Homo sapiens: one gene and its partners. The protein of the gene in region 1 interacts with the protein of each later gene in a pairwise test. Each region holds a gene or a part of one and is shown in the gene's direction. Other genes may lie near its edges.

Evidence for each region.
Region 2: the proteins of CYTH4 (region 1) and INAVA interact in a two-hybrid assay, tested with the Homo sapiens proteins (one study listed by IntAct).
Region 3: the proteins of CYTH4 (region 1) and CCDC40 interact in binary tests that used the Homo sapiens proteins (3 or more experiments, as listed by UniProt).
Region 4: the proteins of CYTH4 (region 1) and CCDC6 interact in binary tests that used the Homo sapiens proteins (3 or more experiments, as listed by UniProt).

Annotation. Positions count from the first base shown.
Region 1 is NC_000022.11:37,292,486-37,299,518, forward strand, and holds part of CYTH4 (cytohesin-4), read left to right. Parts: intron 1-116; exon of another isoform or gene 117-135; coding exon 136-218; intron 219-2,174; coding exon 2,175-2,239; intron 2,240-3,513; coding exon 3,514-3,580; intron 3,581-5,078; coding exon 5,079-5,197; intron 5,198-6,740; coding exon 6,741-6,821; intron 6,822-7,033. UniProt on the Homo sapiens protein: Promotes guanine-nucleotide exchange on ARF1 and ARF5. Promotes the activation of ARF factors through replacement of GDP with GTP.
Region 2 is NC_000001.11:200,897,879-200,904,911, forward strand, and holds part of INAVA (innate immunity activator protein), read left to right. Parts: intron 1-428; coding exon of another isoform or gene 429-522; coding exon 523-577; intron 578-1,594; coding exon 1,595-1,719; intron 1,720-2,225; coding exon 2,226-2,342; intron 2,343-3,058; coding exon 3,059-3,281; intron 3,282-7,033. UniProt on the Homo sapiens protein: Expressed in peripheral macrophages and intestinal myeloid-derived cells, is required for optimal PRR (pattern recognition receptor)-induced signaling, cytokine secretion, and bacterial clearance.
Region 3 is NC_000017.11:80,031,782-80,039,672, forward strand, and holds the start of CCDC40 (coiled-coil domain-containing protein 40), read left to right. Parts: upstream 1-4,860; 5' UTR 4,861-4,881; coding exon 4,882-4,910; intron 4,911-6,341; coding exon 6,342-6,405; intron 6,406-7,891. UniProt on the Homo sapiens protein: Required for assembly of dynein regulatory complex (DRC) and inner dynein arm (IDA) complexes, which are responsible for ciliary beat regulation, thereby playing a central role in motility in cilia and flagella.
Region 4 is NC_000010.11:59,788,214-59,791,556, reverse strand, and holds the end of CCDC6 (coiled-coil domain-containing protein 6), read left to right. Parts: 3' UTR 1-2,810; downstream 2,811-3,343.

The DNA of each region.
Region 1 (7,033 bases):
GGCTTCCTGGAGGAGGTGGGCCTCTGTGAATAGGGCAAGTCCTGGGTTTCCGGAGGGAAGGGGGCCCTGCAGAAGTGAGGGCAAGTGGGTGTGGCTGGAGCCAAGTGATGGGGAAGGCCGGTTGTCTCTCTGTAGAGCCCGCGGAGCTGAGCAGCGGGGAGACGGAAGAGTTACAGAGGATCAAGTGGCACCGAAAGCAGCTCCTGGAGGACATCCAGGTGAGTGCACACTCGTGTCCACACACGTGTCCATGCCCACACTCCTGCACGCTTGTACGCACCCCACCAGCTCCTGACCCAGCCTGGTCAACAGACAGTGTGGCCAACTCTGGCTCATATCAGCCTCGGCCCCAGCCCCAGGAGCAGGGAGAACAACAAGACTGCAGACACCCCGAGACCCAGGGAGAACTGGGAGAGCCGGGGAGGGAGGCAGCGATCCAATTAGGCGCCCACCGTGTGCCGATCCTCATCCTGGCCTTTACTTGCTTTGTCACAGGGCAGGCTCTGACCCCTGTGGTGAAGCTTCAGCCAGGTCTCACCCCTGCAGAGTGTAGACCACCTGGTCAAGATAACTCCCAGTATGTGCCCTGCACTTACCACTTCACCAATCAGACTCAGACGTCAGCTCATCTGGGTCAGCAGCTTCTGAGACAGGCTGGGTTCTGTTCCTGGAACGTGCCTTGCTCAGCACTGCCCCTGGGCCTTTGCACTCGCAGTCCCCTCTGCCTGGGCTGCAGTGGCTGTGCCCACCCCCACTCCCATGCACATAAACTTAGGATTTCAGTGAGGAAATGAAGGCACAAAATTATTCACTCAGCTGCTGTTTCATTGAGCACCTACTATATGCCAGGATTTCTCTACCTTGCTCTGATGGTGTTCTGCATAGTCATTCCAATTACCCTATGACCACCCATGATCCCAGCCCCACCAGACTGTGCCCTCCATGAACACAGAGCCGAGGTCTGTCTTGCCCACCACTGCATCCCCAGCCCGCTGGGTGCAGCATTAATAGGTGCTCAGTTAATACTTGCAAATGAATCCCCATTGTATTTGTGGGGCAACCACTCAGTGGCTCTGCCAAGATGGCATGAACAGGAGCTGACACGGCTCAGACACAGGCTCCCAAGTCCCATGCTGGCCCTGAGTCTCAGGACAAGTCCCTGGAACCAGCCCCTCACCAGCACCCTGCAGATCCTGGGGAGAAAGGGGCTGGGTGCCTAATGGGGGTGCCGGCCAGAGGCTCATGCTGGTGTCCTTCAGGGGGTGCTGGTGGTTGGCAGGGGGAGGTGTTAGGGGGTCCCCTCTGCCACTGGGTGCCTCCTGCAGGGTCAAGATGAAATGGGCTTGGGGTCGAGTTGGGGGAAGCACAGGTTTGGAGTCAGACTGCGGGCGTGTCGTGTCATCTCTCTACGCCTCAGTGTCCTCTTCTGTAAAGTCCAGGGGAATTGCAAAGTCCCTGGAAAGAGGGCCTAGGCTGCCTGTGCGTGGTGTCCCCGTAGTACCTGGCAGGCACATAGCGGGCACTTAGTCAAGGGTGAGCAACATAGTAAATGGAGGAAAGCCAGAGAGAAGCTGAGGAAGCAGTAGGGAGCCATGGGAGGGGTTTGAGCAGGGGAAGGGCAGGCTCCATGCAGTGCTCCAGAAAGACACCAGCCGGGAGAGGCAGGCAGGGTGGAGGCGGGCAGGGTGGAGGTGGGCTGGGGGAGGTGGGCAGGGTGGAGGCGGGCGGGGGGTGCAGGCAGGGTGGAGGTGGGCAGGGTGGAGGCGGGCAGGGTGGAGGTGGGCTGGGGGAGGTGGGCAGTGGGGAGGCCGGCTTGTCGGGTAGGCTCGGCTAGAGTGCAGGAGACTTCATGGCTGCAGAGAGGAGAGATGGGAAGGTTGGAAAAAGGATGGGCAAGGGATGGGGGCTTGGGGAATCCCACTCCCCAAGACAAGTGGAGGCATGGGTGCAGACAGAGGTGATAGTTTAGCATGCGACTTAGAAATTATGAGACATCCAGGGAGGGGACCTGTCCATGGAGGGTCCCTCAGACTGGGGACTCAGGACAGAGGTCAGGGAGAGGGGCCAGGTTTGAGAGTCGTGCCCAGGGGTAGGAGTGGTCCTTGTGGTCTCAAACCCCCGGGGTTCTGGCCTCCACCCCTGACTCTCCCTGTCCTGCCCCTGCCACCCCACAGAAGCTGAAGGATGAGATTGCAGATGTGTTTGCCCAAATCGACTGCTTCGAGAGTGCGGAGGAGAGGTGAGGGGCTTGGGTGGGGACCCCCAGAAACTGCCATGGTTGCTTCCCAAGGATGTCATACACCTTGAATGAGCAGGGGCCACTCCCAGCCCCCTGGACCTGGTGAAATCAGGGATTGGCCAGGGAGAAGGAGGCAGCAACGAGACCGGAACAGGGTGGCCCCGGCCCCATCCCGGGTCTGGTCCCTGCTCCCAGGCTGACCCTCTCTTGAGAGACACTGCGTCCTCCCCTCCCCCAACCCAAAGTCTCTCCTGACCCACTGTGGTCCAGCCCTGACCGATCACTGGCCACATCCACCCTGGGATGGGCGGGGAGAAGGGAAGCTCAGCCCCAAGGGCAAGGACAAGGAAGCCCAGGGCCCCAGGAGGACAGGAGCCTGGCCCTACCCCACCCCACTCACCACTAACCCCGGGCCAGCCACGCCCACCGCCTCTGTGGAAAACTCCCACTATTTTGTGATCTGGGACAGATCCTGTCCCTCTCTGGGTCTCAGTTTCCCCATCTGTGCAACAAGAAGGTTGGTTGCTACACAGTCTCCTAAGGCCCCAGTGCACTGACTCTGACACACGATGTCCTGGCAATTTCCCATCCTGCGCCCGCCACTCCTTAGGTCTCCACCTGTCCAGCCTCCTCCCCTCCCCCACCACACACATGCACACACACACACGCATGCACACACACACAAGCATGCACACACACACAAGCATGCACACACACACAAGCATGCACACACACGAGTGGCCGTTTCTCCAGCTCCCCTGTTCCAGCCACAACAATGACAACATAACACACCTACGCCTCACTGTTTTAGGTGCTTTAACCTCTCAACAATGCTGGGAGGCAGGTGGTGGTATCACCTCCATTTTATAGATGAGGAACCTGAGGCCCAGAGAGAGGAAGTGACTCGCCCAAAGCAGCCCGGCTCAGATTCGCATCCAGGAGCCTGGCTCCAGCACCTGCGTGCTCAGCCCTCGCCCCCTCCCCCGGTTTCTTGCACAGGGCCCCTCCACCTTCTCCCACACGGCAGCTCCGGGTTCCTGCAAGCTGCTAAATGCCCGTGCTGGGCCCATCAGAGAAGTCAGCTGCAGAGCTCTGGGAGGAGCCAGGCCTTGCACTGCTCTCTCCCGCCCAGGTGGTTCCCATGCAGGACCCGGAGGCCACACTTGGAGGGCCCTAGAGGGGTATGGGCTCCTGCTGAGGCAAGGGTCCTTGGGGAGTGGAGAGGGTAATTCAGGGTCCTGGGGCAGCCCAAGCTGACGTCCTCATGTCCACAGCCGGATGGCCCAGAAGGAGAAGGAGCTGTGTATTGGGCGCAAGAAGTTCAACATGGACCCCGCCAAGGTAGGTGGCTGTGGAGGGCCCGGGCCACAGGGTGTGGGGGCTGCATGGGAGCACCTGCCTGGTGTCCTCTCGCTCCCCTCGGCTGACACGACCCCTTTCCAGAGGAGGAAGCTGTGCCCAGCAGAGCTGAGCATCTTGTCCAGTGCCCCATGGCCAGCTGTGGCTGGGCGCCCTGTCTACTCCCAGGCATACACGCCTTGGGGCAGGAGGAGCCAGGAGCATGGAGGAGGCCACGGTGTCCATGCACTTGGCCTAGTCCCTTCCCCACTCTGGGCCTCCATTTCCTTCTCCATGAATGTGGCTTGGGACAGTGGAGCTCTTGGATCTGGGGCTTAGGCTCCAGAAGCATCTTCCAGCCCTGGGCTCAGGGAGGGCCAGTCCTGCGGTCCCACCACCCACCCCTCTGCTAGTAGGAGCAGCAGCTCAGGGCTGGGTTACCTCGATCCCCCACACCACTCCCAAGCCCCTGGCCTCACCCCACCAGGTGGCAGCTGGGCTTCCATCCTGAAAGGACGGAGACAGAAGGAAACCGCAGGCAGACACACCGAGGTGGGGTCAGGTGGCCAGCAGAGAGCACCAAGCTGGGGTCCCTGGAAATTTACCGCTCTGGCTTAGAAGGCTCCCTGTCCCCATCACAGGCCCAAAGTGTTATAACCATTCACCTCTCATGGCTACAGACCCTTGGACTCCTGCTCCTACCCACAGAGACCCCCGCAGGCTCACACTCTCACCCCACCCAGCACCCAGGGGTGTCCTCTGCATCCTCTGCCTGTCACTGGGCCCTCATGGCCTGTGCCCAACTTCCAGCAGTGGAACACAGAGGAATCTTCACGGAGAGCCAGAGACCAACCCCTCCAACTCCTAAAACTAGGATGACAAACTCTGAGTGCCTTGGTGGTGAGGAGAGGTGCTTGTGATATTGTCAAATCCGAAAAACAGATTTAAATGTGACAGGCATGGTCTGAGCCCATTTTCACATAGAAAGGGAAGGAAGGTCACCACGATGGAAGCTGTCTGCCTCCGAGCGGTAGGGCCCGGGCAATTTCCTCCCCTTTGGATTGAGCTGGTTTTTCTAACTTTTATACAATAGACATAGATTACTTGTGTGAAAGAATGAAACGCTATTTTTAAATAATATGAGTTTTAGGGGAACAAAAGAAATGGCTGAATCATTGAATCTCAGAATCACAAATTCCTAGAGTCACTGAAGCATATAATCAAAGAATGTCAGACTGAGGGGGACCCTGGGGAGTACCTGGCATGAACCTGGTTCATGGCAGGAAAGCTGACTTTCTTTGCATGCCTCCAGTGATGGGGAACTCATCACCTCCCAAAGGCAGCTCCTATGAAAGAGGGGTCAAAACTTCCCAGAACAGACTGTGCCAACACCAGAATGCCAGGCTCCAGGATTCTGGCCATGGAAGCTCCTTCCTCCCTTCCCCCTCCCAGGCCTGCTTCCATGCAGCAGCTGCTCACGGCTTCTGTGTACCCCCTCCAGGGTATCCAGTATTTCATTGAGCACAAGCTGCTGACCCCTGACGTCCAGGACATTGCACGGTTCCTGTATAAAGGCGAGGGCCTCAACAAGACAGCCATTGGTACCTACCTGGGGGAGAGGTAAGAACGAGTGGAGCCTTAGCGAGGCAGGAAATGAAGGTGTGCAGGTGTGTACAGGTGTGTGGATGTGCAGGTGAGAGGATGAATTATGTTAGCAAAGTCATCACTCCTAGTGCTTGAGGGGCTCACGGATCATCCCCTCCAGATTCTGAGTCAAAGCCTGACTGCCTTCATTCATTTAGTCATTTATTCAACAAATAAATGTTGCTCAGGGTCTACTGTGTTCCAGGCACCATCCTAAGCCCTGGGTGTACACCAGTGAATAAGACAGACAAAACTCTTGTCCTCAGGAAGTCCATGCTAGTGGGAGAGACAGGTCTCAATAGTTGTAAAATATGTTAGAGAATGATAAGCTCTGTGGAATACAAATCGAGCAGGGAAGGGAAGTCAGAAATGCTGGGGACCGGCCAGGCTCGGGGCTCATGCCTGTAATCCCAGCACTTTGGGAGGCCGAGGCAGGCAGATCGCGAGGTCAGGAGTTCCAGATCAGCCTAGCCAACGTGGTGAAACCCCGTCTCTACTAAAAATACAAAAATTAGCCGGATGTGGTGGCAGGTGCCTGTAGTCCCAGTTACTCAGGAGGCTGAAGCAGGGGAATCGCTTGAGCCTGGGAGTCGGAGGTTGTAGTGAGCCAAGATCACGCCATTGCACTCCAGCCTGGGCAACAGATTGAGAACGAGACTCCGTCTCAAAAAAAAAAAGAAAAGAAAAGAAAACAAAGAAAGAAAGACATGCTGGGGACCATAGGTTGGGGGCTGTGATTTAGAATAGCGTGGACAGGAAGGGTCTCATGGAGAAGGTGACATTTGACCAAAACGTAAAAGAGGTGAGGGCATGAGCAGTACAGACATCTGGGGGAGGAGCGGTCCAGGAGTAGCAAGTAAAAAGGCCCTGGGGTCAGAAACAGGCTCAAGAATCTAGACTGGACGGGAGGAGAGAGGAAGGATATTGTGGGCGAGGAGGTGGGGATCTGTGGGAGCGCTCTGGGCAAAGGACTGGTCTGAGGGGTGGGCGAGTGGATAGGGGTGAAGCTGGACCAGAGAGTCAACAGCCCTCTCCCCAGCTCCCAAGGACACCCCTCCCTCCCGCGGTGAGCAGGGGATGCAGACGGTGAGAAGGGCACCTTCCTGCTTCAGGAGCTGGGGAGAGGGAGGAGATGGGGGAGGTCAGCTTCTCTCCCTTGTACAGATGAGGAAGCTGGGGCTGGGAAGGTCAAGTGGCTTCCGCGAGGTCACCAGGTGGGAAGTTACAGGAAATGAGGAAGGCCTGGACTGAGGGCAAGGCCGCTCCAAAGCCAGGGCTCCCCTCCCAGGCCAGACCAGCGCTGGTGAGCCGTGAAGGTGTGTGTTCCTGCATGGGAGGACAAGGGTGTGCCCTCAGGGTGTGATATGGGTGGGACAGATGTGAACACACCAGATGGCAGCTGGACCCCAGAAGGACAGATGTCTCTGTCCTCTCCCTCCCCCACCTCAACCCCCTCCAGGAGGTGGGTGCCAGCAAGTATCCAAGTGTGTCCCACCCTCCCTTCCGCCTCCTCCCCCAGGGATCCCATCAACCTGCAGGTCCTCCAGGCCTTCGTGGACTGCCACGAGTTCGCCAACCTCAACCTCGTCCAGGCCCTCAGGTGAGTAGTCCTGGGGCAGGGTCCCGGCCCTCAAGGGTGGCACAGCCCCAGTGGCTGGGGGTGTCGCGATCCACATAGCTGACAGCACAAACAAAGGGTTGGGAGCAAAGAAGAGGAGGCAAGGAACAAGAATGACTTCATGATAGTACTGCCTCACAGAGCTGAGCTGGACCGCCTGGGAAAGGGCCTAGTTCCTTGCAAATAGCAAATAC
Region 2 (7,033 bases), on another chromosome or scaffold:
CCAGAAATGCTGGGATTACAGGCGTGAGCCACCATGCTGGGCTTCCTTCCTCCTTTCTTTGTTATCCCATCCCATTTTTTGTCCCCTTCCTTTTTATCCTGTCTCTGCTCTTTTCCTTCTTGCCCTTCTCCCCAGTCGAGCGGTTCTTGTGGCTACCACAGCTGTCGACCCCCTTAGGCCTAGAGGACTTTGGCCCAGAGGGGAGTTAGGCTGGGCCCCTGAGAGCCCACTGAGAACAGGGTTTGCTGGTGAGGCCCACAGCCCCTTCTCTAGGTCAGCACCCCCAGTGCCAGAATCTCCTGCCCCAGATGGTTCCTGAAGCACAGTCCTCCCTTCCACTCCCCTGCTCTCAAGCATCTATTCAGCTTTTTGTAACCAAGATGGTTCATATCTAGCTTTTTTGTTATTGTTCTCTTTTCTCTTTAAAGCTGGGGAAGCTCCAGGCTACCTACACAACCTGGCCCAGGCTGGTCACGGTGTCCCCCCTCCCTGCTCTGTGCCCTCTCCTTCCAGAAATCCACCATGGAGAGTAAGGATGAGGTCAGCGACACCGACAGTGGCATCATCCTGCAGTCTGGTGAGTGTTCAGGGAAATCCCCCTGCCCTAGTCCCTAGTCCCTGGTCCCTGGTCCCTGGCCCTGACTCCTGAGTCCTGAGCCCTCAGGCACTAGGGCTGGCTGGGCTGAGACTCCCAAGGGCTGAGAGGAAGGGGAGGGAGAGGCCTCTGCTGGGAGGAGGGGGAGGTTCTGGAAGGGCTGGAGCCTCAGGGACATGTGGAGTTTTCCTCCCTGGAGAAAACTGGCTTGGAGTTTTGGTTCTATCTGGAAGAGGGATCTGCAATGTTCAACTTTAGCCCCAGCTGAGAAGTTGAAAAATCTCAGGCAGGCACAGTGGCTCATGCCTGTAATCCCAGCACTTTGGGAGGCCAAGGTGGGCGGATCACAAGGTCAGGAGATCGAGACCATCCTGGCTACCACATAGTCCCAGCTATGTGGGAGGCTGAGGCAGAAGAATCGTTTGAACCTGGGAGGCGGAGGTTGCAGTGAGCCGAGATCGCGGCATTGCACTCCAGCCTGGGCGACAGGGCAAGACTCCGTCTCAAAAAAAATATATCATCTGGCCAATGTGAAGGTCTTGCCTCTCTGTTTGGCCAGACCTGTGGGCCTAGTCTGGCCTAGTCTTGACAGAGGACAAGAAAGAAGAGGCTTATGTGTGTGTGCAAGAGAGAGGGGTAGTGGGGAGAGGGAGAGAGAGAGACAGGAAGAAGAAGGAGAAGGAAAAGAGGAAGAAGAAGGGAGGAGGAGTGGGGGGAGGACTGCACCGGCAGAACTCCCTCCCCTGCACTCCCCCACCATAGGTCACCTGGTGGGACGACCCTCCCTTCTGAGTTGTAACATTTGTGCAGCCAAGAGACGTGGTGTTTTGTGGCTGTGACACAGGCCACAGCAGCCAGCCTGCAATTTGTGGGCAGGCATGAGATGTGTGTGTGTGTGTGCATGTGTGTGCATGTGCATTCCCCTAGGGGTGGTCAATAAGTAACGGAGGAGGCTTCCATCTTCAGCCTCCCTGAGCATGTGCCCCCCAACCCTTGCAGGCCCCGACAGCCCGGTCTCCCCAATGAAGGAGCTGACCCATGCAGTGCACAAGCAGCAGAGGGCCCTGGAAGCGAGGCTGGAGGCCTGCCTGGAGGAGCTGAGGAGACTCTGCCTTCGGGAAGCGGTGAGGCCCCAGCCAGCACACACAAGCATCGGGTTCATCTCAGGAGCTGTGGAGCCACGTGTGGGGATGCGGGAGCTGGGGAGAGGGAGCCCCATTCTTGAGGGAATTCTGGACATCAGGCTGGGGGCTGGGGCCCAGAGTCCCCATGATGCAGTGTTTGACCTTGTGCTGGATGGAGAAGAGTCAGACCCAGGCAGGGGCCCAGGCACAGAGAACAAAGTTCATCAGGGGCTGCAGAGGGACTGCACAGACATAAGTGCATATGAGTGCTGTAACCCGGGTCGGTGTAGCTCTGGAGGAAGTGATCAGAAAGAGGTCTGAAGGGAAAGGGGAGGAGTGCAGAGTGGGTCTGAAGACAGGAGAGACAGTGTGGAGGATGGGATGAGGTGGGGTGGAGGGTGGTCCCACCAGGGCTTCTATGGAAGGCAGGCACATGCAGTGCAGGGGCCAGTGAGCCAAGTCTGGGCAGGTGGAGAGGACCTGGCTGGTCTCTGCTTCCTCCCCAGGAGCTGACGGGCACCTTGCCAGCGGAGTATCCCCTCAAACCAGGGGAAAAGGCCCCCAAGGTTCGCCGCAGGATCGGAGCGGCTTACAAACTGGATGACTGGGCCTTGCACAGAGAGGTGAGGAACCTCAGGAAGCTGCCAGTACCCCTCGATCCCCAAAGCTGATCACTGAGACGCCACACCTCAGCTCAGTACCCTGGCAGGTTCCCTTCCACCCTTTCACACCCAGTGAGGGTGCTTGGCTGCCTGTTGGTGAGAGACACCATGAATATGTAGCCCAAATGGCTGTGGAGAAGGGGCGCCACTAAGGAACCGAGAGCTGGGAGCTCAAGGGAGGACACTGGGTTTGACCCCATTGGGCAGAAGATCAGTTAAGAGCACCAGCCACCAACCCAGCGGGCAATAGCCTGCTCAGACAGGTTACTCTGGCCCCTAGGGCTGTCCTCCTTTCTCAGGAGGAGGTGGGGGCAGTCAGGCCCTGGGTGCCCTTCCCCTGTGGCGTCAATGGCAGCAGTTTCCCATGGGCCAGCCTGCCCCACCCTTTGGGGTCAGGAGGGAAAGTGTCCCACTTGGGTTCCCACCCTGCCCGGTTCAGCAGGTGGGCTGGTGGGTGGGTGCCCATGCCAGCTTTTCAGGCTGACAAGTTTGCTTTTCGGCTCCTCCCACTCCTTCACCCTCTGCTCCACGTCCGTCCATTGGTGCTGCTGTCTGCCTCTCTTCTGTCCTCAGGGCTTAGGACTGGGACCTAGAGCACTGTGTCAGGGCTGCTGTCCACCCTCTGGGCCCCCAATCTCCCTGCCTCTCTCTAGCCTCACTCCTGCCCCCTCTCTCAGGACCCCCTAAGCAGCCTGGAGCGCCAGCTGGCCCTGCAGCTGCAGATCACAGAGGCAGCCCGTCGGCTGTGCCTGGAGGAGAACCTCAGCAGGCAGGCTCGGCGGCAGCGGAAGCACTCCATGCTGCAGGAGGAGAAGAAGCTGCAGGAGCTCCAGCGCTGCCTGGTCGAGCGGCGGCGCAATAGCGAGCCACCTCCGGCTGCTGCTCTCCCCCTGGGCCGAGGTGAGCCGGCTGCCCTGAGGGGGGCCATGCTCCTTAAATGAGCTTTTGAGGGATGGTGGGCGCACAGCCCCGTGCCACTGCCTTTGCATTTGGCTCCAGCTGGGTAAAGCTGATTCTTGGGTTCAGCTCCACCCCATCCTGATTCTCTCCAACTCCAGCAAGGCTTCCCCATCCTGTGAGGTCTTCTTCTCCGTCTCCTTAGAAAACACCCTACTCTCTCCTTCCGTATCCTCCTCAAAATACACTACCTTCAAGAGACTTCCTACACAGAGATATTTCTCAGCTGACCCTGAGCTGAATCCAAGGTGTATTCAACTGGGTAGCCCAGGCTGGCCCCGCTGCCCTCCAGGCCCACAGGGTGATGGCATCTCTGGGTCAGGGTAGTGTGAGGCTCCCGTGAGCCCAAGGCTCTGAGTTGATGTGTAGTCCCCTGGCCTGAGTTAGGCAGCAAAGGGTTTGACGATTGCTATGTGTTACTGATCACTGAATTGTTTCAGGGGCCCACAGCTACTTAGGAGATGTTCAGGTTGAAATCCAGCAGGACTGGTGCCACACCCCACAGCCCCTTAAGTATCTACAACCACCCTGGTCAAGGGTGGGATCCTTCCATGTCTGTTCTCTGCCCTCCTTGTGTCTGTAGTTCAATCCCTGAGCTCCTTGGCCCAGAGACTAGTGGCCGTGGGGGCACCTAGTGAGTTGTTGATGCCCAGGTGCTGCCACATCACATCAGTGTGTCCACCACAGGTTAGCTTCCAACAGGTGGTTCTGAGCCCTTAGGTGTGACTGTTTTCCTTTGTCCTGACCCAAGGCCAGCCTGTCAGGTCAGGACTTGCATCTCTCCATTCCAAACCCCACCGCAGCAGGCCCATGACTCAGCTCTGCCCCCCGTCTCTCACATGGGACCCAGACCTCCCTGGCTGCCTCAGAGGGAACCGGGAGGGAATGAGGCCGTGGCCCTGCAAAAAAAAATCCAGAATTGGATTCAGAGGTCTCGGCCTTCATTCACATTCTCAGGCTCCCATCCCTGCATATCGTGTTGGCTTTTTGCCAAGACTACTCCTCAGCCTGGGAGCAGTCATGGGGAAGCTGGAAAGCCCTTGCTAGTCCCTGTGCCCTGCAGCCTATGCCTCAGGCAGGGAGTTATCTCAGCACAGGTCTCAGAAGTCCCTGCTCCTATCCATGGCTTTTAATTTAGGGTAGAAAGTGCATGACCAGACACCACCCAGGTCACCTCCCGCAGCCAAGAGTAGGTGATAAAGGAGGAGGTGCCTCCATGTGACAGTTAACCCAGTAAACTCAGAAGACAGTGGGGCTGACCCAGGGAAAATGGCCAGACCTCTGTCCGGTTCCAGTGGTTCTGGCTTGGCCGCAGAACAACACTCCCAGTCTCTGAGGCTCTAATGGAAGACAAGTTCTACAACCTTACTCCACTCTCAACAGGGATCCCAGGACTTGACAGCAACCTTGAAAGGTAGCTGCTGAATTGGACATGGAAGCCCCTAAGGGCCAACTTGCTCTGTGCCTGCAGGGAGAGGTCAGGGTGGTGAGATATGCCCGTTGGTTGCAGCGCCTCCTGCTCCCCGGTCCAGCCTCACACTGCTCAGCAGCCTCCCCTGCCCACCGGGGCTGCCATTGCTGGGAGCTTCTGCCCATGATGGGTGGCAGGGGAGTGTCACCCTGATGCTGCCATTGTGACCCATAATGCTTCTTGTTGGGAGTCGGGAGCAGGCCAGGACTGGCCTGGGGCTCTGTGGAAGGCAGGAGGATGAGGTTCTGAAACCTTGGAGCCCTCAGTACAGGTGAAGACAGAGCTGTGGAGAGGAGACAACTGGTGTAGTTGCTGACTTTCCCACATCAGGAATCAAGATCCCACTGGCCAACTTCAGGCCCTGGGATCTAAAGTCCTGTTGTGAGAGCACAGAAGGGATCAGTTCTAGACAAGTAATTTCTGTTTTGTGGCTCCTCTGCCCAGCCGAGCCCTCCTAGAAAGGAGGAAGTAAAGCAGAATTATTAGTAGCTGAGGTGTTTTGAATTAAAAAGGGAAGGCCGGACACTGTGGCTCATGCCTGTAATCCCAATACTTTTGGAAGCCAAGGTGGGCGGATCATGAGGTTAGGAGTTCAAGACCAGCCTGGCCAACATAGTGAAACCCCATCTCTACTAAAAATACAAAAATTAGCCAGACATGGTGGTGCATGTCTGTAGTCCCAGCTACTCGGGAGGCTGAGCCAGGAGAATCCCTTGAACCTGGGAGGTGGAGCCCAGGATCAAGGGAGCCGAGATCGTGCCACTGCACTCCAGCCTGGCAACAGAGTGAGACTTTGTCTCAAAAACAAAAAACAAAACAAAACAAAAAAACAGGAGGCCAGGTGCAGTGGCTCACACCTGTAATCCCAGCACTTTGGGAGGCCGAGGCGGGTGGATCACTTGAGGTCGGGAGTTCAAGACCAGTCTGACCAACATGGAGAAACCCCATCTCTACTAAAAATACAAAATTAGCCAGGCATGGTGGCGCATGCCTGTAATCCCAGCTACTCGGGAGGCTAAGGCAGGATAATCACTTGAACCCAGGAGGCGGAGGTTGCGGTGAGCCGAGATTGCACCATTGCACTCCAGCCTGGTGACAAGAGCGAAACTCTGTCTCAAAAAAAAAAAAAAAAAAAAGGGAAAAAAGCAAACAACCCAAAAACCGAAATAAAAAACCACCCTGCCCCCTTGGGCTCCATACAAGGGTAATTTAGTTTGGGAAAGTAACTGCTAGGTGAGAGTCATCAGCCATACTTTGCAGTGGCAGGGAGCAGTCAGGTGTTGAGCTCATTTACTAGAGTGAACCGCATGAGGGCCACCCAGCACCCACCTGTGCAATGTAATAGGCACTCTGGATGCATCTGTTGATCAACAACACCAGCCATTAGCCACATCCTCATAACATTTTTTTTTTTTTTTTGAGACGGAGTCTTGCTCTCTCATCCAGGCTGGAGTGCAGTGGAGCCATCTCAGCTCACTGCAACCTCCACCTACCGGGTTTAAGCGATTCTCCTGCCTCAGCCTCCTGAGTAGCTGGGACTGCAGATGCGTGCTGCCACGCCCAGCTAATTTTTGTATTTTTAGTAGAGATGGGGTTTCACCAAATTGTCCAAGCTAGTCTCGAACTCCTGACCTCAAGGGATCCTCCCGCCTTGGCCTCCCAAGTGGTGGGATTACAGGCGTGAGCCACTGCGCCTGGCCGCTCATAGCATTTCTGAGATGGTGGAAGTGTTCTGTATCTGTGCTGTCCAATACAGTAGCCACTCGCTGCATGTGGCTATGGAGCATTTGAACTGTGCCTAGTGTGACTGAGGAACTGACTTTATTTAGTTTTAATGAAAATAGCCACATGCGGCTAGTGGCAACTGTGTTGGACAGCATAGCCTTGGGGGAAGCTCAGCATTTGTGAGTAAAATCTCCACCGTTACCCCTCTGTCTGGGGTGTCCTGCGATGCTGCTGCGGGGCAGGGGAACGCTGAGCTAGGGCAGGGTTGGGACAGTTGCTGAGATAGTGAGCAGCTCTCAGAAACCTGAATCTTTTTTTTTTTTTTTCCAATCTTTTTAGAGACAGGGTCTTGTTCTGTTGCTCAGGCTGGAGTGCAGTAGTGTGATCATACCTCACTGCAGCCTTGAACTCCTGGGCTCAAGTGATCTTCCTTCCTCAGCCTCTAGTAGCTGGGACTACAGTCATGTGCCACCACACCCAGCAAATTAAAACAAAACAA
Region 3 (7,891 bases), on another chromosome or scaffold:
GAAGATGCAGACCCAGCCAGGAAATCAAAAACTGCCCTGAGTCTGGCTCAGGTACCTCCTACTTCTATGCTGTGCCTGTAAACATGGAGGCCTAAAGCTTCTCAGCATCTGTCAGTGAAGGAGCAGTGAATGCACCGCAAAACAAAACTGAAACTGGGGGGACATATTAACAACACCCAAAAGCAACACAACTGATCTTGCTTTGGAAAGCATTTTAGTTACAGAAAAGGCAAAAGGCTGTCAAATGACATCTGTAAAGTTCACCCTTTCCCCCACTTCCAGAAGGCTAGAGTAATGATGAACTATATTGGAGCATTGAATTCAGGCTCACTCAACATGCAAAAAGCAGTACACGACTGAAGTGTGCAAGCCAGCATGGATGCGGGCTTGGCACCCGCAGTACGTTGGCTTCATAGTGACCAATCCAGAAAGACCACGGAGAAAATACTGCCACATCTCAGCGTCTGCAGCCCATACAGGCAAGCAGACACATGTATCACCTTCCAACGCCTGCACAGACTCACCGCCCAAGGCTCAGCAACAGAAGGGCAGGCCATTCCGACTGGACAGTGGATTTGGATTATTTCTCTTTTCTTTCTGTTATTCATGTGTCAGAAGCCACCACGGGCAGAAATCGAACTTAGTCTTACAGTGGCCCGATTTCTCTCATCCTTTGAGGATGGTTATGTAAGTTCCGAAGACAGAGTAAAGAACGTATTTCAAATCAGATGCCACCAGACAGCTCATAAAAGCAGATTTATTAGAGATGCAACATCAGGTGCTCAAAGGACAGATAGGATAAAAACACCAACAAAGCCAACAGGATAAAAAACACTGCCGCTGAGGTGAACGGAAAAAGGCCTCCAACATCATTGCCCCATATTTTTGGGAAGGGTGCAAATGTGTGCTCTCTCCTGTGCACTGGCCTCATTAACAGCAATATAATGCAAATGCAATACAAATGGTGTACAATTCGATCATAAAATCATCCTCTGCGCTGTCACCTTCACATCCCAGAGCCACCCGCCCCCGGTGCTTAATGCTGGATGAAACAAAGTAGCTAATCTTACAAGAGAATTTAGGCCTGTGACAAAAATCAGGGTCCCTCAGCCAGGGAAGAAGGGGAGCTAAAATTTTCACAGGAGGTGGTGTTGCCAGGCAACCTGATCAGCTCTGCTCCCCATAGCATCCTGCAGGGACCCAGCCCCCGGTCAAGTTGTAAAGATAAGGGTACACATACGCACAAATAGTAAATCCTACATCTGCCTGGAATCACTTTCCACCTCATGGACCACACAAAGGGGAGTGAGGAGTCAAAGCACAAAAACAAAATGTTTTGTGTCAATCTAGTTAAATGTGGAAAATCCAAATAACGGTCATTAATAACAGTGTTAAAATGTTACCATTTGACATTACTTACCACATCCTAAATGGTAACTCAGGATGTGTCAGGAATTCAATGCTTTTCATAATCCTTGCACAAAGTCTCTGAAGTAGGTAGTATAGATGGGGAAATTAAGGCACTGGAGAATTAACTAAGTGCCAGAGGAGTTGGGGTTTTTGTTGTTGTTTTGTTGTTGTTGTTGTTTGGGTTTTTTAGGTTTTTTTTTTAAGCAGAGTCTCACTCTGTCACCCAGGCTAGAATGCAGAGGCTGGTCATGGCTCACTGCAGCCCTGACCTCCCGGGCTCAAGCTATCCTCCCACCTCAGCCACCCAAATAGCTGGGACCATAGGTGCCCACCAGCATGTCCAGCTAATTTGTTCATTTTTTGTAGCGATAGGGTCTCTCTAGGTTGCCTAAGGTGGTCTTGAACTTCTGGGCTCAAGTGATTCTCCCAAAATACAGGATTATAGGTGTGAGCTACTATGCCCAGTCCAGGATTTGTATTTGAAGCCAGCAGTCCATCTTTCTACGCCATGTTCTTAACCACTGCACCTTATTACCCAAAACTGTGGACAGAGACCAGTGCAATTGTAGGTAGGTTCTGCAAACTCAATGGCTTTATCCTGAAGCCTGGGGGATGCTTTCCATACTGAAGTGAACTGAGATTAGCAGCTAGTGGTGACATGGGATTAGTCCCACCTCCTTGCACTGTTATGAACCACTTGGAAGAATGTTTGTATATGAATGGTGGGCACCCTCTGTAAGACAGAGGGCAAAGTTGTACAACGGTTTTCTGGAGCTGGGACGTCCTGGGCCTAAGGCCTAATTCTGTCACTCCTAACTGCATGAGCTTGGGAAGTTACTTCTCTAAGCGTCAGTGTTCCCATCTGTAAATGGGCATAACTGCAGTCCTGACTTCATGAGCTTGTTTTGTGGGTTAAGTGAATTCATGCATGATAATTAGGAACTACTAACGCAATCACCAAAATTGCTAGAGGATTAAATAATTCCACAGATAAAAACTTTTTTTTTCCTTTTTTTTTTTTTTTTTGAGACATAGAATGTTGCTCTATCACCCGGGCTGGGGTGCAGTTGCACATCTTGGCTCACTGCAACCTTCGCCTCCCGAGCTCAAGCGATTCCCCTGTCTCAGCCTCCTGAGTACTGGGATTACAGGCTCACGCCACCACACCGGGCTAATTTTTGTATTTTTAGTAGATATGGGGGGTTTCACCATATTGGCCAGGCTGGTCTCGAACTCCTGACCTCAGGTGATCCGCTCGCCTCGTCCTCCCAAAGTGCTGGGATTACAGCCGTGAGCCACGGCGCCCAGCCATAAAAACTTTCGCCATAAAAACTTTCGTTAGCCATAGTCTCACCATAAACATGCCACTTACAAAAAAATATGCGCACAATAACCACGCTCAGGATGCAAACAACATCCATTAATGAACTTTGTAGTTAATACCAAAAGTTACTCCTCACTTTATTCTTTATTTACAAAAGCTTTCATGGTTCTTAAAAGTGTTTAGTATTCACCAATTTTACTGTTAGCGTTTCTAATGAGGATTTTCTAAAACTGAGGCATGGATTTGAAAAAGTGTTCTGATCAATCAGTAACAGATTTGGAATGGAATCTCCAGCCCCCAGTCTTTGCGCCCACCCTCTGGCAATATGCCGCCTCACGTGAGCATCTTTAAGACGGAGTTCCCTTTTTATTCCAGATAAAAGAATTAGGAGCCTTCTGGTAGAAAAGAAAGCAGATCTTCAGGATCAAGTCGCAGAGGCTGGCCAATCAGCCCAGCTTCTCATTTGAACTTGACCCAGACAGTAAAACAAACTTTACCATAAGGCGAGACTAACTTTTGTTATGTCTTTTCTATTCATTTCCTATTTCTGAATCAAATCTGAACTACTTTGTGGCCAATATACGACACCAGCTTCCGAGTGTGGGAATCACAGGATTTCAGGATTCAGCGGCTTCCGGCAGGATCCCCTAGGTTATGTTTAGCAATCTTCAGTTGCCTTTCCTTTTTTTCTTTCCTTCCTTTCGTTCTTTCTTTCTTTTTCTTTTTTTTTTTTTCCCAAAGGAAAGAACAAGGGAGCCCAGGCGGAACGGAAGTGAGTATCCCGACACGCGGATCTTAAACAGCCCAGACCACCAAGCCCGACAGGCCGGGAAAGCTGAGCGCGCGCTGCTGGGGGGACGCACACTTTGGAGGCTGTGTGGGCGCGCGCCGGCACCCCACAAGTTCTCATCCGTCTGCTCCGCCGATTCAGCCAGACAAAGACCGCAAGTTCCCCGGTCCACCGCTCCAGACAGGCGGGGACCAGTCTCCCCGAATTAGGCCCATTCCGGGCCCGGGCGCCCTCACTCGCCGCGGGGAAAAGTCCCCAGGTGCCCCTCCGTGATCCAGGTCCTCCCACAACGCTCCCGCTCCTGCTGGCGCCCCGCACCCCGAGGACGGCGGCCGGACCCCGGCCCCTCCCCGGTCCCGCGGCTGCAGGCCCACGCGCCCCACGCGCCCCGCGCGCCCCCGCCCCAGCTCCGCCGAGGGGGCGCTGCTCGCTGCGCGGTGGACCCCTCGGACCCCGCCCCCGCGGCCCCGTCCGGGCCCCGATACCCACCCGGGTCCCGCTGCGGGGGCCGGATTCGCGCCGGCTCCGAGAGCCGCCACCGTCGCCTCCGCCGCTGCCGCCGCCAGTGAGGCGCGGCGGGGCGGGGACGCGCGGGGAGGCCCGGCCCCCGGCCCGCCCCCGGGCCCGCCCCCGGCCCGGCCCCTGCCTGCCCCCGCCGGTCTCCCCGCCCACCTTCTGGCCCAGCCCTGGGCCCAAGCCTCTAGTTCCCTGCTGGCCCTCCCTCAGGCCTCGCCGCGTCCCGGCCTCGGGGACTGTGCCCCGTCCCGAGCCTGGCGTCCCCAAAGGAAAGGCAGGGCTCCTCGGACGCTCCGCGTGCGCGCTGGCCCTCCGCTGCCGCCCTCTGCAGGGAGATTTCTCCTATTTCGGACTAGGAAGGGAAGATACGCTCCGGAAGACCCCCCGGGCGTCCATGCAAGGAGTCTCCGTAGGACCCCTGGAGAAGGGCACCGGAGCCCCCTAGGGCAGGAGATGGAAAAGCGCTCGCCATGCGCGGGGTCCCCGGCCCCCGGTGCCCCCAGCCCGCCTGCCATTCCCGGGCGCTTAGCAGTCCGGGGTCCCCAGGTGCCCGGCAGGTCCCTTCGGGACCTCGAGCCGCCCGCTGGGCACACGCTGACGCCGCTGTCGCTTTACAGAAATTGAGCGCAGCCGAGGCGGGACCCGGGCGCAGAGAGCGATAAAGGAAAAGCATGGTCGTGCTCTAATCATTACAGTCTAAGGGACGACACGTCGAGACGGCGCGCGCCTCTGCGTGCGTGGAGATGGCACAAAGGCCGCGCCGCCCCCGGCGGCCCCCGCCCTCGCAGCGCGCGTGGTCCCGGCCCGGCCGGATGTTGACAGCGTCGCCTAGCAACGGGAAATGGCGGAACCGGGCGGCGCGGCGGGCCGGTAAGCCGGGCCGAGGGGCAGCGGGTCTTGGAGTCGCCAGGCCGCGCTCTCCGTTCACCGCTCCAGGTGGCCCCCGCGTCGGCTCCTGCCTCGCCCCTTCGCCTCCACTCCCCCTTCCTCTCGCCTGTGTCCCTTCTCTCGCCATTTTGCTGGCCTTTCCCGTCCACTGCGTTCAGCCCCTCACCCCCCCGCCAACCCTTCTCACTTCTCCCCTCCTGTCCCTTTGTCCTCTCTCGGCCTCCCTCTTTCCCCTACTCCAAGCGCGCGACTCCCTCTAAAACCCGGGACCGCTCACTCTGCAGTCACCATGGCAACCACTCTGCGTGGCGGTCCCTGCGCGCAGTCCTCCTAAGAGTAGAGGGCTCTGCAGGGCGCGGGGCTGTTGGATACCGCCCCTGACCTTGCTCCGGGGCCACTCGCTGTGGCCGGAGACCAGCCCGGCCCCGCGCCTCCCTCCTGCAAGGACAGATCCCCTCTCGCAGGCTTGGGGGTGACCCGCGATGGGAGGGGTCCCTGCGGTTAGGCGGCCCGCGATAGTCCGCGGTCACCGTCCTGGGGCCTGGGTGGAAGCACTGAGCGCGCACAGGGAGGGCGGCTGAGTGAAGATCCCTGCCACCGGGCCTCTGCTCGCTTAGGCTCTGTTTAAAAGGATAGAAACGATTGGAAAGAGTTTGGCCTTTTTACCTTAGACACATCGGTATTGTTTCATTTTTTTAAAGGTGGGTCTGTATGTATTGACATGGAAAGACTAAAGGTATTATTAATAAAACGATAGGCATAAATGTAAAAGGGTAGGTATACTATGATCTCTAATTCAGGGTGTGTGTGTGTGTTTAAAACATAGAAAAATGTTGAAAGAATGTGGTCCTAAATGTTATCAATGATTATCTTGGGAAGGAAAGGGAAGATCACAGGGAACTGTCACTGTCTGTCTCTTTGAACATATCTATATTCCTTTGACAGATAAAAATAGCTTGAATCTTTAATTTTTTAAAAAAGATATACATATATATATATATATATATATATTCCTGTGCTACGTAAATCGTGGAGAAACTCAGAGTCCCCAGAACACTTACTCTGATCGCGCTACTTTCTCTACGTTGTATTTCTTTTCCCCAGTTTTGTCCCAGACACAAGTTATATTTGAGGTGACTTTTCTGGGGTGATCTAATCCTGCTGTTCCTTCGATGTTTTAATAATTATATTTTTCATTCATTCATGGAGCTTTGCTTTTGTGGCATCTCCGCCACCTGACAGGCATGATATAGTGCTATGGTTCCTGACAAACAGGACAAAGACGTGACAACAGCCTGGGGGTGGCAGAGAAGTAACAAGTAAATAAACAGATGTGCAGAATTCAGGAGGGGATAAGGACCAAGAAAAAGAAAGCTGTTGCTTGAAACTGTTCAATTGTTTCTCTAAAACCAGGTCCCATCCGGAAGATGGATCGGCTTCTGAGGGAGAGAAGGAAGGGAATAATGAAAGCCACATGGTAAAATTCCCTATGGGCAGTTATTCCGGGCTTATATTTACTAGGAATTAAAGAGAATCAGAGTACGGGCACTGTGGCTCACGCCTGTAATCCCAACACTTTGGGAGGCCAAGGCAGGTGGATCACATGAGGTTAGGAGTTTGAGACAAGCCTGGCCAACATGGTAAAACCCCATCTCTACTAAAAATATAAAAATTAGCCGGGCGTGGTGGTGCGCACATGTAGTCCCAGCTACTCGGGAGGCTGAGGCAGGACAGTGGCTTGAACTCGGGAGACAGAGGTTGCAGTGAGCCAAGATCACACCATTGCACTCCAGCCTGGGTGACCAGTGAAACTCTATCTCAAAAATAAATAAATAGGCCGGGCACGGTGACTCACGCCTGTAATTCCAGCACTTTGGGAGGCCGAGGCAGGCAGATCACGAGGTCAAAAGATCGAGACTATCCTGGCCAACATGGTGAAACCCTGTCTCTACTAAAAATACAAAAATTTGCCAGGCATGGTGGTTCACGCCTGTAGTCCCAGCTACTCGGGAGGCTGAGGCAGGAGAATGGCTTGAACCTGGGAGATGGAGGTTGCAGTGAGCCGAGATTGTGCCACTGCACTCAGCCTGGCGACAGAGCGAGACTCCATCTCAAAAAATAGATAAATAAAATTAAATTAAAAATAAATAAATAAAGAGAATTAGGACTTGGTCAAGTATATTGTATGATGACATTATCTTGCACCAGAACAAACTCAATTCAGTTGAAGAGAGACTCATTTTCTTCCTACCCCATTCTACAGTGTCAGTGATTAGTCAGGGATGCAAAGGATGTCCAACTTTGGGTTGCCCTGAGTTTTTCGGAACTCATTTCCTGTAACAAAGGATGCAAAAATGATTATGAAAAGCAGAGAGGGCCAGGCATGGTGGCTCACGCCTGTGGTCCCGGCACTTTGGGAGGCTGAGGCGGATGGATCTCTTGAGGCCAGGAATTCAAGACCAGCCTGGCCAACATGGTGAAACCCCATCCCTACTAAAAATGGAAAAATTAACTGGGCATGGTGGTACACACCTGTAGTCCCAGCTACTTGGGAGGCTGAAGCAGGAGAATCGCTTGAACCCAGGAGGTGGAAGTTGCAGTGAGCCGAGATCACGCCACCGCACTCCAGCCTGGGCAGCAGAGTGAGCCCCTGTCACAAAAAAAAATAAAAAAAGAAAGAACAGATAAACTGAAGCATGAAACATGATTTTTTTTTTTTTTGAGACAGAGTCTCACTCTGTCTCCAGGCTGAAGTTCAGTGGCACGATCTCAGCTCACTGCAACCTCTGCCTTCCGAGTTTAAGCAATTCTCCTGCCCCAGCCTTCTAAGTAGCTGGGATTACAGGTGTGCACCACCATACCCAGCTAATTTTTGTATTTTTAGTAGAGACGGGGTTTCACCATGTTGGTCAGGATGGTCTCAATCTCCTGACCTCGTGATCTGCCTGCCTCAGCCTCCCAAA
Region 4 (3,343 bases), on another chromosome or scaffold:
AACTGAAAAGTAATTTATCAGTAATTTTTAAGAGTCCATGTTTTGTGACAACCATCTCTAATAGCCAACTCTTTATTAAACACACTCCTAAAAATAAGGAACCATGACATTGTAGATATTTAATATTGTACAGTATAGAAACCTCCATTTTTGCCTTCGAATGCATATTTAAGAGTTAACAGAATGAAAAAAAAAAGTCTTGTTGGATAATAGTGTTTGACTAGCGTTTTAAGAACTTGAGAGTAAAAGCAACAATAAGATTTTTTCACCTCTTCCTGCTTCCACCCCCAAACTGAGAACATCACTCAATTGTTTGGAAGAAACTGTAGGTCTATATAAATTTTATTTATAATGTATGTGTAATATACATAATCATAATACAGTTCTCAGATGCAGGGAAGAAGTTTGGCATTTAATCATTGAGGCTTTAGGTTTTTGATGTGATCAGACTGGGCCATGTCAAACCCGGAATTTTCACCAACAGTTCACTCACCCTCCTGGTACATTGCCATTCCAAGGAATTCTGAGAGTAGGCAAACAAATTTTGCCTTCATGGTACAGTTCTCAGTTTTTCTTATAGGAGAAATATGGTATATGTTTATAAGAATCTTTTATGAGATTATAGATTTCAATGCTGTGGATAGTGTCTTGCACCCAAACAAGAAAGTCCATAATGGAATGATCTTCCCTCAGCTTCCTATCGATTTAGTTACCTCTTGAAAGCACAAAAATTAAAACATTGCCATATGTTGAATTTTTAAAAAGCACTTGGAGTGAGCGAACATTTCCTGATAAATGCCTTTTAGAGATAGGTTCTTGATATTCAGACATCTGCAGAAATGTTCTGGTTCCCAAAGTCATTTCACTTCGAAATAAAACACAGCTCCTTCAAACAGCACTTTTTCCACATAAATCTAGTTGCCTCTCCCTGTGGACATTCAGAACTGATAGAACAAACACTACTCTTTTGAATTTGATGGTTCGTGTCCTTTAAAGTGTTTGAGGACCTATGCAGAGCCTGTAACACTTGGGTAGTACCTGCTAGGACAATTTCTTGGCAATTGTCTTACTACTAGGGATCAGTAAGATTTAGATTCTGAGCCCATAATGGCAACAGCCCCCTCACCTATGGGAAGCTGACTTCCCTCAGTCGGGCACTTCTCATGGGGGCTGAACATGGTTCCTGCCATTCTGTTACCCACTCTCCCAGGTGAGCCCTGGATTGGCTCCCAGAAGGCCTTTGTAAAATCAGTAGCCGTCCTGCAGGCAGGTGGGAGCAACAGGGGCTTCAGTAGCTTCATTTTCCTGTCTTGCAGACAGAGACCCTTGGCTACCACTGTGCTGCTAATAGGATAAGTACTCTGTTGCCAGATTACCATGCCTTTTATACAAAACCAAATTAACTTACCTAATACCTGACACCTCTTTGGGCTCTGAACTGCTTTCTCTCATCAAGCATGCTAGCACTCTAGACAGAATTCTAGAAATTTGGCAGATAGTGGAAGCCTTTAATTGAACTTACTCCTTCGTTGACTGAAAGGAGTTTTAAATTCTGAGCTCCTGAGATACTGACTAGCAACCATGGAATGAATGTGTGACCAGAAAGTGGCTTTGACACCAAGTGCTACTGTCCCTTTGTAATTGGCTTCTAACAGAATTCAACCAGAAATAATTGATAATGTGAATTTTTGTTAATTGTTCACTTGTAGGAAAATAGAACATGTATCACCCTTTGTTAGGTAGACATGAACTTTTCCTGCACAAAGCCTTGCTTTTAGAGAATGCCCAATAAGGCAAGAAAAAGCATAGTAACTTGTGCTTTGAGAGCTCAATATTTGTATCTTATCAGTACAGAAGAAATATTTCTGTGTAACTTGATCTTCTGTCTAGTACTTGTCTTATAGGTAACCAACACTGAAAACTTTGTAGTGATGACTACCAAAGAAATACATAGTAAAACAACCTTTTATTTCCAAATTGTTAAAGAGCCAGCCATTGATGCTGCTACATGAGTTCCATGCTCAAGAGCCATTGTAAGAGATTAAGGGGTTTCTAGGTTTTTGGTGATTTTTTGTTTGTTTTTTTCTTTGTTTTTTAGGGTTTTTTTTTCTTCTTTAATTTTTTGATTAAAACATACACACAGCTGTTAGCATAAAGTCGTGGGGGGCATTTTCTGGAATGCTCAGCAGTTCTGATTAACTGCCAAGCCCAGGTTGCCTCTCATGAGGCAACTGAAAAAATCCTGTGTCTTGATAGCATGGGTGCTGTGTGTGTGCATGTGTGTGTCTGCATTCATGCCTTAACTCGGGTTACTGCACAACTTTAGTTCTTGACTTAGTCTGCACCGTCATCTAGATTGTATTGTACATCTCGGTCTGAACTTCATCCTGGCAAAAACAAAGTTGCAGGCACAACAGTTTAAGAATGCATTCCTCCAGAAGAGTATCTGGTCAGGTTGACCCCTGAGCCTTCTTTGGACTTGATTTGGAACTTAGCCTGGAAAGCGAAAGTGGACTGTCCAACAGAAAGATGTCAACAAGGAAAAGAGGAGAGCCAAGCGCTAGCATGCCTTTTGCCTCTGCATATCTGTGCACACTGTATGTTGTTCATGATAGCTTGTCTACAACTTGACTAGGTTGGAGTTCTGGTAATAGTGGCAATCTTGACATTCTTGGTCAGAGTTTAGAGAGATGTAAGACTTTCAATTAATGTCTTATTTACTCCTTTATGTTGATTAGTCTTTGATACATGTGCTGAATCAGAAACCTAAATAAAGATAATTTTTTAAAATGTACCTCTTGAGCCTTAAACCCTATCTTTTTTCATTTCGGTTTTTGGGAATAAAACATTGTTTCTCTGTTGCTTCTGACAGACATCTAACTTAAATTGTAAACTCTAAAGGCTGCCTTAGAAAGTAAATTTAAACAACTGGGTGCAGTGACACAAGCCTGTAGTCCCAGCTACTCAGGAGTCTGGGGTGGGAGGATCACTTGAGCCTTGAGAGTTCGAGGCTGTAGTGAGCTAGGATTGCGCCATTGCACTCCAGCCTGGGTGTCAAAGGAAGATCCCATCTCCAAAAAAAAATAAGGAATGATGGCACGAAAAGGGCTGGTATAGTTTTGCTTATTTGTTTTTGACGGAGTCTCACTCTGCCACCCAGGCTGGAGTGCAGTGGTGCAATCTTGGCTCACTGCAACCTCCACCTCCTGGGTTCAAGCAATTATCCTGCTTCAGCCTCCCAAGTAGCTGGGACTACAGGTATGTGCCAACACGCCAATACAAGTTAATTTTTGTATTTTTAGTAGAGACGGGGTTTTGCCACATTGACCAGGCCGGTCTCAAA